2 linked regions of the Homo sapiens genome follow. The protein of the gene in region 2 interacts with the protein of the main gene of each other region in a pairwise test. Each region holds a gene or a part of one and is shown on either strand. Other genes may lie near its edges.

Region 1 (7,977 bases), on a different chromosome or scaffold from region 2:
AGTTCCCGGAAACAAAGCTACGATTTGGAAGGATGGTGTAAATTCTAAAGCGTAGATCCTTGAAAAGCCCCTCCCACTCTGTTTTTCTTGTCCTCGATTCTGGTATTTTTTTCTCAGCATCCCACCCACCTTCTGCCCCAGCTGTAGCAGTTAGTTGCCCGGCAACCCAGCGCAGCACTTCACTGAGGGATTGGGAGTACCCTCAGGTCTTGGATTTAACTCGAGACTTCAGCTTGGCCGTGGATCACTGCATTGTACCTAGCTCCCACAAGGAGGAGATGGAGATTTCCAGGCTGAGGCTCTGGAAAGAGCTGAGGAGGGAGAGGAATCAGACCCACAACTGATTTCCTGTGAGTCTGAGGAACTCCCAGTCAGGTTTCTTCCTGTAGGTCACTGTGCATTTTGCTTGGCCTCCTGCAGGTTGCTGTGCATTTTGCTTGGCCTGTTCCCCTGCAAACAACAATTCACCAGCTTTTTTTTTTTTTTTTTTTTTTTTTTTTTGAGACAGAGTTTCGCTCTTGTTGCCCAGGCTGGAGTGCAATGGCGCGATCTCGGCTCACCGAAACCTCCACCTCCCAGGTTCAAGAGATTCTCCTGCCTCAGCCTCCCGAGTAGCTGGGATTACAGGCAGTAGCTGGAATTACAGGCATGCGCCACCACGCCCGGCTAATTTTGTATTTTTAGTAGAGACGGGATTTCCCTATGTTGGTCAGGCTGGTTTGGGACTCCCGACCTCAGGTGATCTGCCCGCCTTGGCCTCCCAAAATGCTGGGAGTACAGGCGTGAGCCACCACGCCCAGCCAGTTCACCAGCATCTTTATTACCTTTCATTCCCCGACAGGCTCTTAGGCGGCAAATGATTTCCATTTGTCAGAGAGGAAGTCACCACCAGTGAGTTAGGGAAAGGACTCCAATAGCCTAGCGCTTTGTCCACTCTTCCCTCTATGGCATGTTCCAGGAGTCAGGGTCATGTTGACCGTTTTTAAGCCGAAGATAGTTTCTTCTTTCCCTCAAAATCAGATGTGAGGCCGGGCGCAGTGGCTAACGTCTGTAATCCCAGCACTTTGGTAGGCGAAGGTGGGTGGCTCACTTGAGGTCAGGAGTTCGAGACCAGCCTGGCCAACACGGTGAAACCCCGTCTCTACTGAAAATACAAAAATTAGCCGGGTGTGGTGGCACATGCCTGTAATCTCAGCTACTCAGGAGGCTGAGGCAGGAGGATCGCTTGAACCTGGGATGAGGAGGTTGCAGTGAGCCGCGATCATGCCACTGCATCCCAGCCTGGGCAACAGAGGGGAAACTGTCTCAAAACAAACAAACAAACAAACTAAATCAGATGTGAAATGGCTTTTCTACTTGAAAATGGCTCTAATTAACAACAACAAAAACCCAGATATGTATAAAATACATAAATTTTCGTAATTTACTTGCTAGTATTCCACCAGATTTTCAGTACTTATCCCACTGCTATTATTTTTCTGTGTGTGTTGTGTGTATGCACGTGTGCCCCTTTTAAACTAGAAACTCCCGGGAGGCAAGTGTTTTCTCTTCCACAGGGTGTCCCCATGGGGCTAGGAACACAGACATCTGTGTACAAGGAAGGCATCATCACACATAATGAGGCTGAGGCTGAAAGGAGGACTGAGGGCAATAGGTGCATATGGAGGGAGCAATTAGTTGTGACCAGAGTAAGTGGTCTTGAGGAAGAGAAGTATCATTTCAGTAGATTATAAGAGTAGAAGGACCTTTCACAGGCAGCGACAGTGAGACACCAGAAGCTGGTGGAAAGGAGGAGCTTGTGGGATCCCAGAGGAGGCAGCATTCAGTTATCTTGTTGATGACGAGTATACTGAGACTCCCTGGAGGTCTGAGAGCCAGTCTGTATCTATTTCCTTTTTTATTAGGAGGCCAATCCTAATAAATCTTCCTTCCCAGCCTGGTATTGGGAAGCTTTATCTCTTTCTTCTCCAGAGATCATTAGCCCTCCCTACCACCACCCTCCTGGGGAGGGTGGAAGGATGTAATCAAAGACAAGAGAGACTAAGGATTCATCATCCACATATACATGTTACTATCAGAAAATGGTTACTAAGATACTTGTCAGATAATCTGAGTATTTTTGTTCCCATGATGATAAAGTCCCAGTTGATGATCAGACTAATCAGAAGGAGAAACAAACACATGACTTTTGGCTTCACTTGAAATTGTGTGCCTTCCCTGGTAAAAGTTCAAAGCGTTTTCCTGAATGCTGAAGCCGGCCCTAGGATTCACAGACCAGTTGACTTGTCAGTGGCCCTGGACTGAGCAGACAGTGTTTGAGATGCACACCTCTTCTAAGTAGCCTTGAGTGGCTCCCAATGAGCAAGGCCAATCCACTGAATGTGATTGCTAGACAAAGCCTGTCCCAAAAATGTTTCATAGTGCCACAAAGACAATGAGACCCCTCTGGATAGTCTGGGGCTGTGATACTTGCAGGACTCTATCTGTGGCTCTGTCCAGTCAGCTGAATCACTCTTTTTCCTTTTCCTCCCACCTCTCCCCTCTTAGTCTAGAAAAAAGTTGTTAATTAAAAGCAAGCCCCAGGATTTCCCATTCCACTGGTATGGCATGAATGATATTTCAAAAGACAGAAATGGCATAGAAATTCTCAAAGCATACTTGAGTATTTTCTGTTAGACTTCTTAAAATTACAAAGTTTGTTAATCCCTACTATGTGCATAGGAAGCTCTTCAGTACTGTGGAGGATACAAACTAATATAATTGCAGTTGCTTGCCCCCAGGGAGTCTACTTCAGCATATTTGGAGCATCTTGGTTGAATTTGAGGGAAAAGAGATGACTAAGACATGGTTCCCACCCCTAGGCAGCTTCCTGATGCATGGAAAAAGCAGACATATAAACAATCAGCTAGACTCTAAGGCAGAATGTAAGTGCTAGAGGTCTAAGTAATGGAAGAAAGAAGGAGGACTAGGCTGGGCACAGTGGCTCTCACCTGTAATCCCAGCACTTTGGGAGGCCGAGGCGGGAGGATCACCTGAGGTCAGGAGTTCGAGATCAGCCTGGCCAACATGGTGAAACCCTGTCTCTACTAAAAATAACAAAAATTAGCCAGGCATGATGGCGCATGCCTATAGTCCCAACTACTTGGTAGGCTGAGGCAGGAGAATCACTCAAACCTGGGAGGTGGAGGTTGCAGTGAGCCAAGATCTCGCTACTGCACCCCAGCCTGGGCAACAGTGACTTTCTGTCTCAAGAAAAGAGAAAAAAAAAAAAAAAAAGAGGGAGGACTAACTAGGGAGACTCATGTAACTAGGTAGACTCACAGTTCAGATACTGAATTGTGAAGCAGTATCTGGCAGCATAGGACCAAGCACTCAGTGGAGAAGTTGAGGGAATAAATCAAAGAAGTCAGAGAATGGAGATCACTAGGGGGTCTGAGGGTTCCTGAAGGATTCTTGGGGGAAGAGGGTCTTCATAGGGAAAGCTTCTACCTGGACAACTTCCTGCATAACCTGCTCCCCTAAACCCTAGCTGCTCTTCCCACTGACAGCTTCCTCCTGCATCCCTGGTTCTGGCCCTGAGTTCTCTCCTCCCTTGATTTCATGTCTTCTCCTCCCTTTGAGATTAGAAACCCAGACTCTAGGAATCTCCACTGATTTGGCAGTCCAGTGACAATGCATGGGCAGGGCCACAGGAGGTTACCTCATTCACCCCCACCTCTCCCCATCATTCCTTACAGGGAAATCTAGGGAGGCCCAGGCTACCCCACCACCTCCTCTGGCTCAGACAAACCTGTTGCTGACCTGTCAGTTTCTGTCTAGCCCTGCCATCCCACACTTCAGAAGGCATTGTTTATTCTCTTATTCTCATGTGCTCATTCCTCAGACAACTACTTGGGTTTGGGAGAAAGATACTTAACACCTTTCCATCCTACCTCTTTAAGAAAGGGACTGTGTGCCAAAGACCTTCCCACATGTATGAAGAAGGGGCTCTTGGGAGAATGTGAATTCCCCCAGGATTCCTTTGAATCCTTTTGCAGGTATTTCCTTCCCCTGTCCTCAGCAAGCATTGATGAGCCCCAGTCCTGTAGAGGTTGAATCAACTCCTTGAGTCTAGGAAAAGATGGCTTCTGAGGCCAGAGGTTGGGCAGTGTACCTACAGCACCATTTCTTGGGAGCTTGTTGGGATATCACATACTTAGAGTGGCAAGGTCTTGTGGCTGAATCTATTGATAGTCCAGTGCTACATTGCCAGCTCCCTTGTCATTACCACCCCCTCTACACGTGCTCCATAGGCAGGAGCTGTTACTATGGAAATACATTATTTTTAAAAACAGACACACAGCCTGGGCTTGGGAATCTCCAGAACAAACCTACACGAGCAAGGAGGTTAATGGGGCTGTTTCTGGGTCCAAGCTCCAAGAGGAAGGAGGGTGATGATGGTGGGGGGAATTCAAATTCGGTGTTCTACTCTCAACCTCTCCCAGCTTCAGGTTCTGCTTTCTCTCTGTTGACATCAGCTGGACCTCTGCCAGACACTTCTATCTGGGAGGGACGCTCTGCGTCTCCTTACCCTGGGCCTAGCTTCCCCCAGGAAATGGGAAGCTAGAAGTCGCTGAGTCTGGGGGTGTTGGGAGAAGGGGGCGGTGATTTCCACAGGGGTCACCTCCTTCTTAACCTCACAGGCGTCCGACCTGTGGAAATCTAACAAGCATAGGGGAAAGCAAAGGCAGCATCTTAGGTAAGTGAAGTTACTCTTGCCTTGAGCTGAGTGTGGGAGCACCGCGATTGCAAGATGGGGCGAGGTGATCAAAGATCCCGCCTATTTTCAACCCCGGAACCTCCTCCGCTCGCTGCTAGCCCTCCCGCCCTCCTCCAGCGAGGGAGCGCCAGGCTGTCCTGGCCCCGCCCGGCGCGGGTGCGGCTCCTTTAAGGGCGGGTGGGGGCGGGGCGCCGGCGGTGTTGTCAGTGTCAGCTCTGCGCACGCAGCCCTCCCGGAGCCGGTGCCGGCCCGCGAGCCCCAGCGTCTCTGCAGACCAGTCCCCTCCAGGGTCCGGCGGGGCCCGCGCGGTGGGAGGAGTCGGGCACTGGCCGGCGACTAACGGGTCCGACTGCTGACCAAGCTAGGAGAGACCCGGACCACGGAGACAGAGACCCCGGCATCGCGACCCCCGAGGACCTCCTCTCCTCGCCCTGTGGCACCCACTAGTCCTGGGCACTCAGCCGCGGAGAGCCCCCGACCCCGCGCGCCCAGCCCCGGGGGAGCCCACCTCCTCCCCGCGGCCCGCCCGGGCCATGCTCCCCCGGGGCAGCGGGTGAGCCCCAGCCGGGACCGGGATCGGAGCCCGCGCGGAGCATGGATCCGGGCTGGGGGCAGCGGGACGTGGGCTGGGCGGCCTTGCTGATCCTCTTCGCCGCCTCGCTGCTCACGGTGTTCGCCTGGCTGCTGCAATATGCCCGGGGCTTGTGGCTGGCGCGGGCCCGCGGGGACCGGGGCCCGGGACCCGCCTTAGCCGGGGAACCCGCGGGTTCCCTGCGGGAGCTGGGCGTGTGGCGCTCGCTGCTGCGGCTGCGGGCGACTCGGGCTGGCGCCGCCGAGGAGCCAGGAGTCCGGGGCCTCCTGGCGTCACTCTTCGCCTTCAAGTCTTTCCGGGAGAACTGGCAGCGGGCTTGGGTGCGAGCGCTGAACGAGCAGGCCTGCAGAAACGGGGTGAGTTGGACCAAGCGCTTGGGTGGTCCCTTCAGCCTTTCCTTCCAGGGGAGGGACTGACTGCTCGTGCTAGGAGGCCAGACGAGGGTGGGCATAAACTGGGGAACCCTATGGCTTCTCTTCCCCTCCCGGATCAGAGAAAAGGGTGCCGCTAAGGCTGGAGGTTGTAGAAATCCAACTGGGTCCCCAGACTTCCATTTCTGTGGGCAAGGTACTCTGGTTCCAAACCCATGCACAAGTTGCTGTTCTCATAGCAACGCTAATCCCTGTGCCTGAGGGCACTTCCGCCTTGCCTGGGTGCTGGTTGTGTTGGGGCATGGGAGACAGGTGCACCTGCAGAAGGAATTTGCCTGCTTCTCATGCCACCACACCCATTTAACATTTCATGCCCCAAATCCCTGGTGTGGTCAGGCAGATCCCCAAGGAGCCTGAATCACCCCCCTACCCGACAGTAATTTCACTGCTACAGTCAAACACATCCTTCTCCTCCATGCTGGCCTGTGGTTCACTGGGGGTTGGGGAGTGTTCAGGTGGAGAGCAGATTGACAGTGCCCCTACCAGTAGATGAGCTTGGAACTGCCCCTTGAGGGTCAGTCACAAACCAGTCCAGCCTACTTCCTCCCATTGCACCATGGGCATCTGGCCTCCCAGGAAGTGGGGCAGGAAGCGTGGTCATGAGATGGAGATAAGGTGGGAGGTAGAAGTCTCTCTTTTCTGGAGCTCCCTCCCATCCTGACCCAGCAATCTCTCCTTGCTCTCACAGTCCATCAGCTCCTTGCTCAGAGGGTTCTCTATTTCCAGCCACTATGAGTTTGGAGGCTTTACCTTACTAGTTCCCCAGATGCCGGAAACAGAAATGTCCACAAGAAATTGCTCTATTTACTCTGTCCAGCTGGCTGGCTAAAAGCCAGATGGCATCTGTCAGTTTACACCTTGAACCCACCTCTTCATCCAACTCTCCCTGTACCTTGTCCCTCGGTCAGAAGCAACTCCCCAGGATAGCTGACTCAACTGGACATTGGCCTCCCTTGCAGAGGGTGGGGAGATTGAGGTTTCAAGCATCCATCTCCCCATCTTCCTTGGCCTAGCCTTTGAATGAGACAGCTACCAGAGCAAAGGAGTTGGCTTCCCCTGGTTTGCCAAGCAAATGAACCCTATGGATTTGTTTCCTCCATCTCAAGACCCAAGGAAGAGTTGCCAGCCAATTCTGTGCCCCTTCCTCAATTCTGTGTCCGCACTGCTCTCCAGGTGGGGCTGCGGTAGGTTGCTTCCATTACTGTGGACGAATTAGGGAGCAGCTCTTTTGAGATCTAAGCAGCTTTCTGCTCTCTAATACCGTCCTGCTATCTGCCTTGAGGAATTAGCCAGGCCCCTGGACTCTTGGGTCCTCTGAGCTTGTATCTCTTCCCAGTCCCCCTGGTACGGATCCCCAAGGCCATGCTCATCTTCATCTCCAAGAATATGAAGCATCATACTCTTGAAGCCTCCACATCTTATTTATTTGGAAGAAGGCTTAGCTTCATTTCTGCAGCTCTTATCTTGAACAAGGTGGCTCTACCACCTTTACCGGGGCTTAGCCCTTTCCCTCTGCCCAGCTATTATATATAGGTGGCAACCAGCACCTTAACTTTTTTCTATGTAGGATTTTTTGTTTGTTTGTTATTTGTTTTTTTAGGGGGTAGGGTAGGGGATGAAAGGGATTGCAGGGAGAAGAAGAAGGAAGCTCTTGGTATTCCAGGAGGAAGCCAGGGTCTTCAGCTTAAGGTGATCTAGTCTCTGAGGTGGACTACCTCCCCATTGCTCAGTGGCTCCTAGCAGCTACAGGCCCCTGGAGAGGCAGGCCTTGAGGGGACTACCTCCTGTCTTAAAGCCCTGAGCCAAGGAGGGGCCAGAAGCCAGCCTGCAGCTGAGGCCTCCGCAGTGGCAGAGTCCAGCCAGCAACTGAGCAGGCCAACCCTGTGGGGGGCAGCTCCAGAGACCTGATCCAATGCCCACATTACTCCCTCAGAGCTCCATCCAAATCGCCTTTGAGGAGGTGCCCCAACTCCCACCCAGAGCCAGCATCAGTCATGTGACCTGCGTAGACCAATCTGAGCATACCATGGTAAGGGTCTGATGGGCACTGCCCTCTTTGGGGTCCAAGAAGGACTGACCCCAAGGGCTCCCTTTAGTCCAGAGGTTCTTAACCTGGAGTCTGTGAATGCCTTATGGATCTAAGGATTGGTTTCAGGAAGTCTGAGAATCCCATTGAAGTTATGTGCAAAATGTTG
Region 2 (7,022 bases):
CTACATGTTAAGCAGTGCTAATTTTCCTAATTATCAAGTGAAATAACTGCAAATATGCATATCAGGTCATAATAAAGTCGTATATATTTATATTTACATATATATGCCAGATTAGATAGATAGATAGACAGACGATAAACAGATATAAATAGATTGATGTCAAGGATATTACGGTGTATAGGATTTAGCTAGTTCTATAAGCAATGGACTTTCTATTGTTCTATTGTCTACACTCACCCTTGTTTACCACTAAGAATGTATGGCAAGATTATAAACAATCTCCAGAATGGTCATTCTGTCTTGTTTTGATTTTCACTGCTTCTGCTTTTGTTCACCTCTGCTCTCTGCTGTCAACTTTTAAAACCGCCAAGGATCCCTCTCTGTTACTATTTCTTATGCCCAGACTGCTTTCCATAGTCCATAGCCTCTTCTACTTTCTGAGTCTTGCCCTATTTTAGCTTAGATTTGGACCTGGAAAATAGACTGTCAATTACTTTATGTAAAATTTAGACAAATTACTTTATGCTAAGAAATTAGGAAATAGTTTCTCTACTTTCTTACAATTCATCTCCATTAACATTATTCCTGTTGGTATTTATGGCCTTTTCTACTATGTATTTAATTGTGTAGCCTATCAATAAAAGTTGTCAGTAGTCAGGGATTTCTGGGGGTGGGGGAGATTCTTGTATTTAAATACTGGCAAAAAAAAAAAGCATTCAAACTTTGTACTTTAATTACAGTACATCACACTGAGCCAGTGTATCATATCCATTCCTTTCTGGAGTCAGCAGTTAATGACCTATGATGACACTCAGAGGGAGAAAGGCACAGAAATCAGTGGAAGGTCATTAACTTCTCAACAGTGTTTGAGTGATAGGCATTCAATATCTTGACACAAACTGAGAACAACCAATCATAAAATAGTAGTTCTGGCAATGCAAGCAAGCCAAGAGTTGTTCCCTCTGTTTCGTGACCGTGATCTGGACCCAGCAGCAACACACTAAAAAATCTGAACAAATTAACAGGCTGCCCAAATTGTTAATGAAAAAGAACATATTAGTATGAATGACCATGGGAAATAAGTTAGAGAAACTTCAGGAGGACAAATCAGCCTGAAAATAAATATTCTTTGAGAGATGATCATGAAAGTCCCAAATTAACAGAAAGCCCCAATGGTTGACTCTGAAAATTAATGTATTATTTTAAAATTTCTCCTAATATATTACTAAGTTTTGTGATGATTTCATCATTTAAAATGGTTGTTCTCAGTCAGAGCCTAACAATGCCATTAAGCTTGTATTTTCATGACTGTATTTAGAAGCATGCGGTTTCCATTTTCATCTACTACATCCTTTACATAGTTCTAAGTGTCCAAATATATCTTAATTACATTCCCTTGAGTTTTTAACTTGTTCGATTTTTCACTCCAAGAACTTTCTGCCTTGGATTTTATCCCAGCACTTTTGAAATATTAAATTTCCCTAAGAAGATTGTTTTGCAAGATGTCAAAAAATGTCATATTAAAAAAAAACAAAACAGAATAGCCAGACCTTTCAGTGAGTAAAAAGTTTGTTATATGTAACAAAGCCCCAAACATTCAGGGAATTCCTGGGTATGATGCATATGCTAAAAGTCACTGTTCATTATCCCTGATATATTAAAAAATAAATGCAGCACAGATTTACTCATGATGAGCATACAGAAATGGTGATGTAAATTAACTCATAAAATTAAGATAGTACTTCTAATTAAATGCATGAGAGCTTTAGGTTTCATGTGGAAATTTCTAACACCATTATGTTAGTTCATACAGATATAATAATAATGAAAGAAAAAAACCTAGGGAGAGAGATTATATTTAAAATAACTAACAATCAGTGCTGTCCAGACCCTGGACGATAGACAGCTTGACACTCTCTGTGCCAGGCTGTGTCTCTGGTTGTGGATAATAGAGCAGTCCTCCGGTCCTGCTTGAGGGAGTGGAGCTTGTGATGGCTGCACGGTCGGGAGACTCTCAGGGCATCAAGACAGCAGCCCACCGTCAACTGGAACAGATCTATTAACTCTAAAGTTTGATCATCAGCTGTGTCTACAGAGTTTGAACTGAAAAGTCACTAACAGTTCAGATCTAGCAAGGCAGTTTTCAGGAAATTATAAATATATTGCACAATTTTTATGGGTTTATATACAGTCAGTTAAAGCTGACACTGAATTTCTTTACATTCAATTCTATTTTATTACTGACTTCCACCTTATCGTGCAAATTTGGTCCAAGTTGCAGCAAAATCATCAGAAGCAGCAGCTATTGAACGTCTCACCACTCTTTCAGCTGATCACATTTGGCTACTAATGCAGTGAAACTCCAACAGCTGGGAAACAAATGTTGCCCTAATTCCCAGAAAAGTTTTGTTAATGCAGATCTTCTGGAAGCAACTTTCCCACTTCTGTAAAAGCCAATTTTCCTAGAGAACAATTACAATTACCTCTCGTCTCATTCTGTGAGATAACGTGGAGAATTTCTCTGTCTCTTATTTTCAAATGTTATGTTCAGATAAAATCTTCCATCAACATTTTATGGGATAGATAAGGATTCAGAGAACCATATAACGGGTTCTATTACACTAAGCTTACATTTATGCCGTCGAACTATAAATTACTAAATGTCAACTAGCATCTGCAATTGAAGACATCCTTTTACTGTGGGCTTATCTACAAGAGAGAGAAAAGATCTGCCCAGGATTCTACAAACATATTGAGAAAATAAAATTCAAGATAATTTCTCTACAAACATATTGAGAAAATAAAATCCAAGATAATTTATTTGCTAGATGTGCACTAGGAGCTAATTAATTTTTAAATCTAAAAAGTATTTAAATATGTAAGTTTTTCTGCACTGGATTTTTAAGCATTTATTTTAAGTTCATGGGTACATATGTAGGATGTGCAGGTTTATTACATAGGTAAATGTGTGTCATGGAGGTTTGTCGTATAGATTGCACTGAATTTTTACAGAAATATTTTATAGAATATTTCTTTTATATAAAAGAGGCTTCTTTATATAAAGTATATAAATATTTATTTTATATATTAAAATAAATAAATAAAATAAATAAAATAAATATTTATTTTATATATTAAAATAAATAAATAAAATATTTATTTTATATATTAAAATAAATAAATAAAATAAATATTTTATATATTAAAATAAATAAATAAAATAAATATTTTATATATTAAAATAAATAAATAAAATAAATATTTTATATATTAAAATAAATAAATAAAATAAATATTTATATATTAAAATAATAAATAAAATAAATATTTTATATATTAAAATAAATATTTATTTTATATATTAAAATAAATAATTAAAATAAATAAAATAAATATGTATTTTTATATATTAAAATAAATAAATAAAATAAATAAAATACATATTTTATATATTAAAACAAATAAAATACATTTATTTTATATAAAAGAAATATTCATCCTTATTAGTTTCACACACAGCTACATAAATAAACAGGCCCTTTTATTTAGAGAAAGTTATTATTATTAACACTCCTATCACTGTCACAACAAAGATTTCATCACTCTTTCCATGAATAAGTAGATGATTTTTGTCTTTTTCCTTAGCCATTAAAATTTCTATAGAGCTAACTATTGGCAGAGGTTTAAATGCTCTTGGCAATGATATAAAGTGGGGCCAAACTCATGAAGTCAGGGTAGTTTGCTTTTTCTTTCTGAGCAGAAAGGATCTATAATTTGGTTTTCTTTTTGCTTATATTTGTTTATTTTCTGATAGTTGAGTGCTCAGTTAGTTATGAAAATAATAAATATTTTCTAATATCTCACGCTATAATTATATATTATTAATATTAGATGAATATTGAATTTATATCACTTTTTCAATAAAAATATAAAAGACATATTACAAATTCCTGCTGTTCAATTATGATCTACCATTAGTTGCAAAAAAAAGTAAAAAAGAGCATCCACATGGTAAATATTCCCCAAACCAGACTGAATTAACTTAGAATGTTTTATTAGAATCACACAAGATATTTTTTTCTTTTTCATAATTTCTTCTTACCCCCCTCACAATCACACTGATAAATATGTTGATACTACCATACACAGTGCAGCAAGGACTGTGATACCAGTGCCAACACTTTTGAACTAAAAAGAAAATGACTGGTGTTCAAGTGTTCTGCGTTCAGCATTCAATGTTACACCAACTTCTTAAAATTTTTTCTTATAAAGAGTTTTATTATAATAAACTTTTATTTTTACAACAGAGATTTTATAATGTACTTAATTGCATAGTGCACTATAGCTGGAGTCTATTTTCTTACATTAATAAACAAATTTATTTATAATTTTATTTATAATTTTAAATTAAGTTTATAAATGTAGGTTGTGGTCATTTTCTGGATGGTGGCAGCAGCAGCAAGCCCTACTTTTCCAGTTGGAAAATGCGTAAGCTTTCTGAGAAGAGCATGAGACTATTTTTTTAAAAAATCAGAATATTTACAATGGAGATTAGAATAATAAGTAGTAAACCAAGTATCATTGTGACTTAAGAGTTCATGTAGCCAATCAAAATGAATTAGCTTTGAAACCAAACTCTACACTTGAACTTTGGGTACTTGAGATTATTTAATCACCCCTGGCCTCAGTCTTCTTACTTAAATAATGAGACCAGTTATGAGTTTTATAGAAGTAATGATTCTAATAATAAAAGCCTCAAATTTAGCAATAATTTAGAATGTAGCACCTCATTTCTACCACAATCCATGCTTTGGGATAAATTGGGAAAAGACGACCTCTCCTGGTGAGAGATGGCAGAAAGGTCCCTCTTATAGACTGTTCAACTAGAAAAAGTTGATTTTGCCTCTAGGTAGCTTGAGCTACAGGCACTGGGCTTGCCAAGCTGAGCTCCTTCTCCTGTCTCTTTGGCTTGTACCTCGACACAGTGCACAATCTGCATAACTGTGTTTGAACCTTTTTAATATTCCTAGCAATCCTATGACATAGGTGCTCTTATCTGTTTTCAAAATGAGGCAAAGAGGGCAGTTCACACAGCTCACAAGTGCTGAAGCTGGGTTGTGAAACCAGGCCATCTGGCTCTACACTCCATGCTTTTACCAGGTTTCTATGCTGTCTCCATATGTCTCAAACCTAATATAAAGGTGAAATATTTCATGAACAAAAGGGATTGATGAACACAAACACTGTGCATGTTATCTATGTCAGAATCATAAGCATTAATCTGTTATTGATTATTGGGTGGCTAATATAAGCAAGGCTTGTGCATTGAGAGCTTGTTTCTAAACAGAATTAGATTTTCTGTTACAAATATTTAAATAAGAATTAATGTTGCCTCTGTCTCAGATTTTCAAACCATATATGCCTTTAATAAATTTTTATCTAGTCTTTTTATTTTCCAAATAAAACAAACTAGATCCAAATTGAATGCATTCCACATTACAAAGAGTATAACTTTAGCCAAGTTGTCATCCTGTGTTATATCATGAGGAATATGTTAAAATAGTAAAAGAAACACTCTCATCCTAGAGTCGCACACATCCATCTACTTGTATATGAATTCCTGACACAGAAAGTTGTTGTAAATAGTAAAAATTGTTTGTGAGTGCATCTTCTGAATTTTAACCTTGGACTCCTTTATATATATATATATTATTATATATGTATTTTATTATATATATATTATTATATATATATATTTTATTATATATATATTATATATAGTAAATTATATATAATATATATAATATTATATATATTAATATTATGTATAATATATATTATATATAAATACATATATGTATAATATATATTTACATATATGTATATATTACATATATATGTATACATAATATATATGTATACATATATATGTATTATACATATATATGTATTATATTATAGGTACAATACATATATATACACATATACAATGTATATATACATACATATACAATATACATACATATATAATATACATACATATATACACACATATACATATATACACACATATATTATATATAACATATATACATATATATTATACATATATATTATATACATATATATGTATATATTATATACATATATATGTATATAATATATACATATATGTATTATACATATATATGTATATAATATATACATATATGTATTATATATATTATATATGTATTATACATATATTTTATATATATATATAAAATACATTACCTTTTATAAAGGTAATGTAACAGATACTGCCATCTTTGGGAAAGAGTTATAAAACAAAACCATAAAATGATGACAAACAGCAGTTGAAGAATAATGGCTATGATAAATGGTTAGTTCATTAAATGACTGGTAATAAGATTAATTTGTTCCTTTCATGCCCGAGAGATACTTAAAGTAATTGCATCTCTGAAAACTGCACTGTCATCATTTTATGCTTTTGATGATGTCATAGATTAGTTCCATAGGCTGAGAAAGGCTCAGCAGTTTTTCTTGTATCTCCCTTGGTATATATTATATCATATTGTATTAATGTATGTGCTACTGTTCACCACCCATGAATTTGCAATATTCTATGGTATCCACAGGATAAGAAGAGAGGCCTCTAAATCACCCAGTCTCCTAAATAAAACATGTGCCAGTTTTAATAAAGTTAAACTGATATATATTAAAGTGTCCTGGAGAAATCTGGAAGCACCATGAAATATTCCTAATGTCATTTTGCAGCAAAAATAGGTTGGGGATCACTGCTATGCACACTAGAAAGAAAAAAGGAAAAAAAAAAAAGAAACACATTACTTCAAAACACTTCAAATGTTTAAAAGTATCACTTGCTCTTCAAACATATCCTCCCAACTTAGAGACCTGAATTTGGAATCCTTCATATTTATCCTTATGCCTACAAGTAAAATCCTTTTACCTTTGTCCTAAAGAAGACATCACTACTCACCAGTCACTTCACAAAATTAAAT

Evidence for each region.
Region 1: the proteins of CHODL (region 2) and C2CD2L interact in binary tests that used the Homo sapiens proteins (3 or more experiments, as listed by UniProt).

Annotation. Positions count from the first base shown.
Region 1 is NC_000011.10:119,102,389-119,110,365, forward strand, and holds the start of C2CD2L (phospholipid transfer protein C2CD2L), read left to right. Parts: upstream 1-4,955; 5' UTR 4,956-5,353; coding exon 5,354-5,707; intron 5,708-5,724; exon of another isoform or gene 5,725-6,966; intron 6,967-7,715; coding exon 7,716-7,811; intron 7,812-7,977.
Region 2 is NC_000021.9:18,247,825-18,254,846, reverse strand, and holds part of CHODL (chondrolectin isoform a precursor), read right to left. Parts: intron 1-7,022. UniProt on the Homo sapiens protein: May play a role in the development of the nervous system such as in neurite outgrowth and elongation. May be involved in motor axon growth and guidance.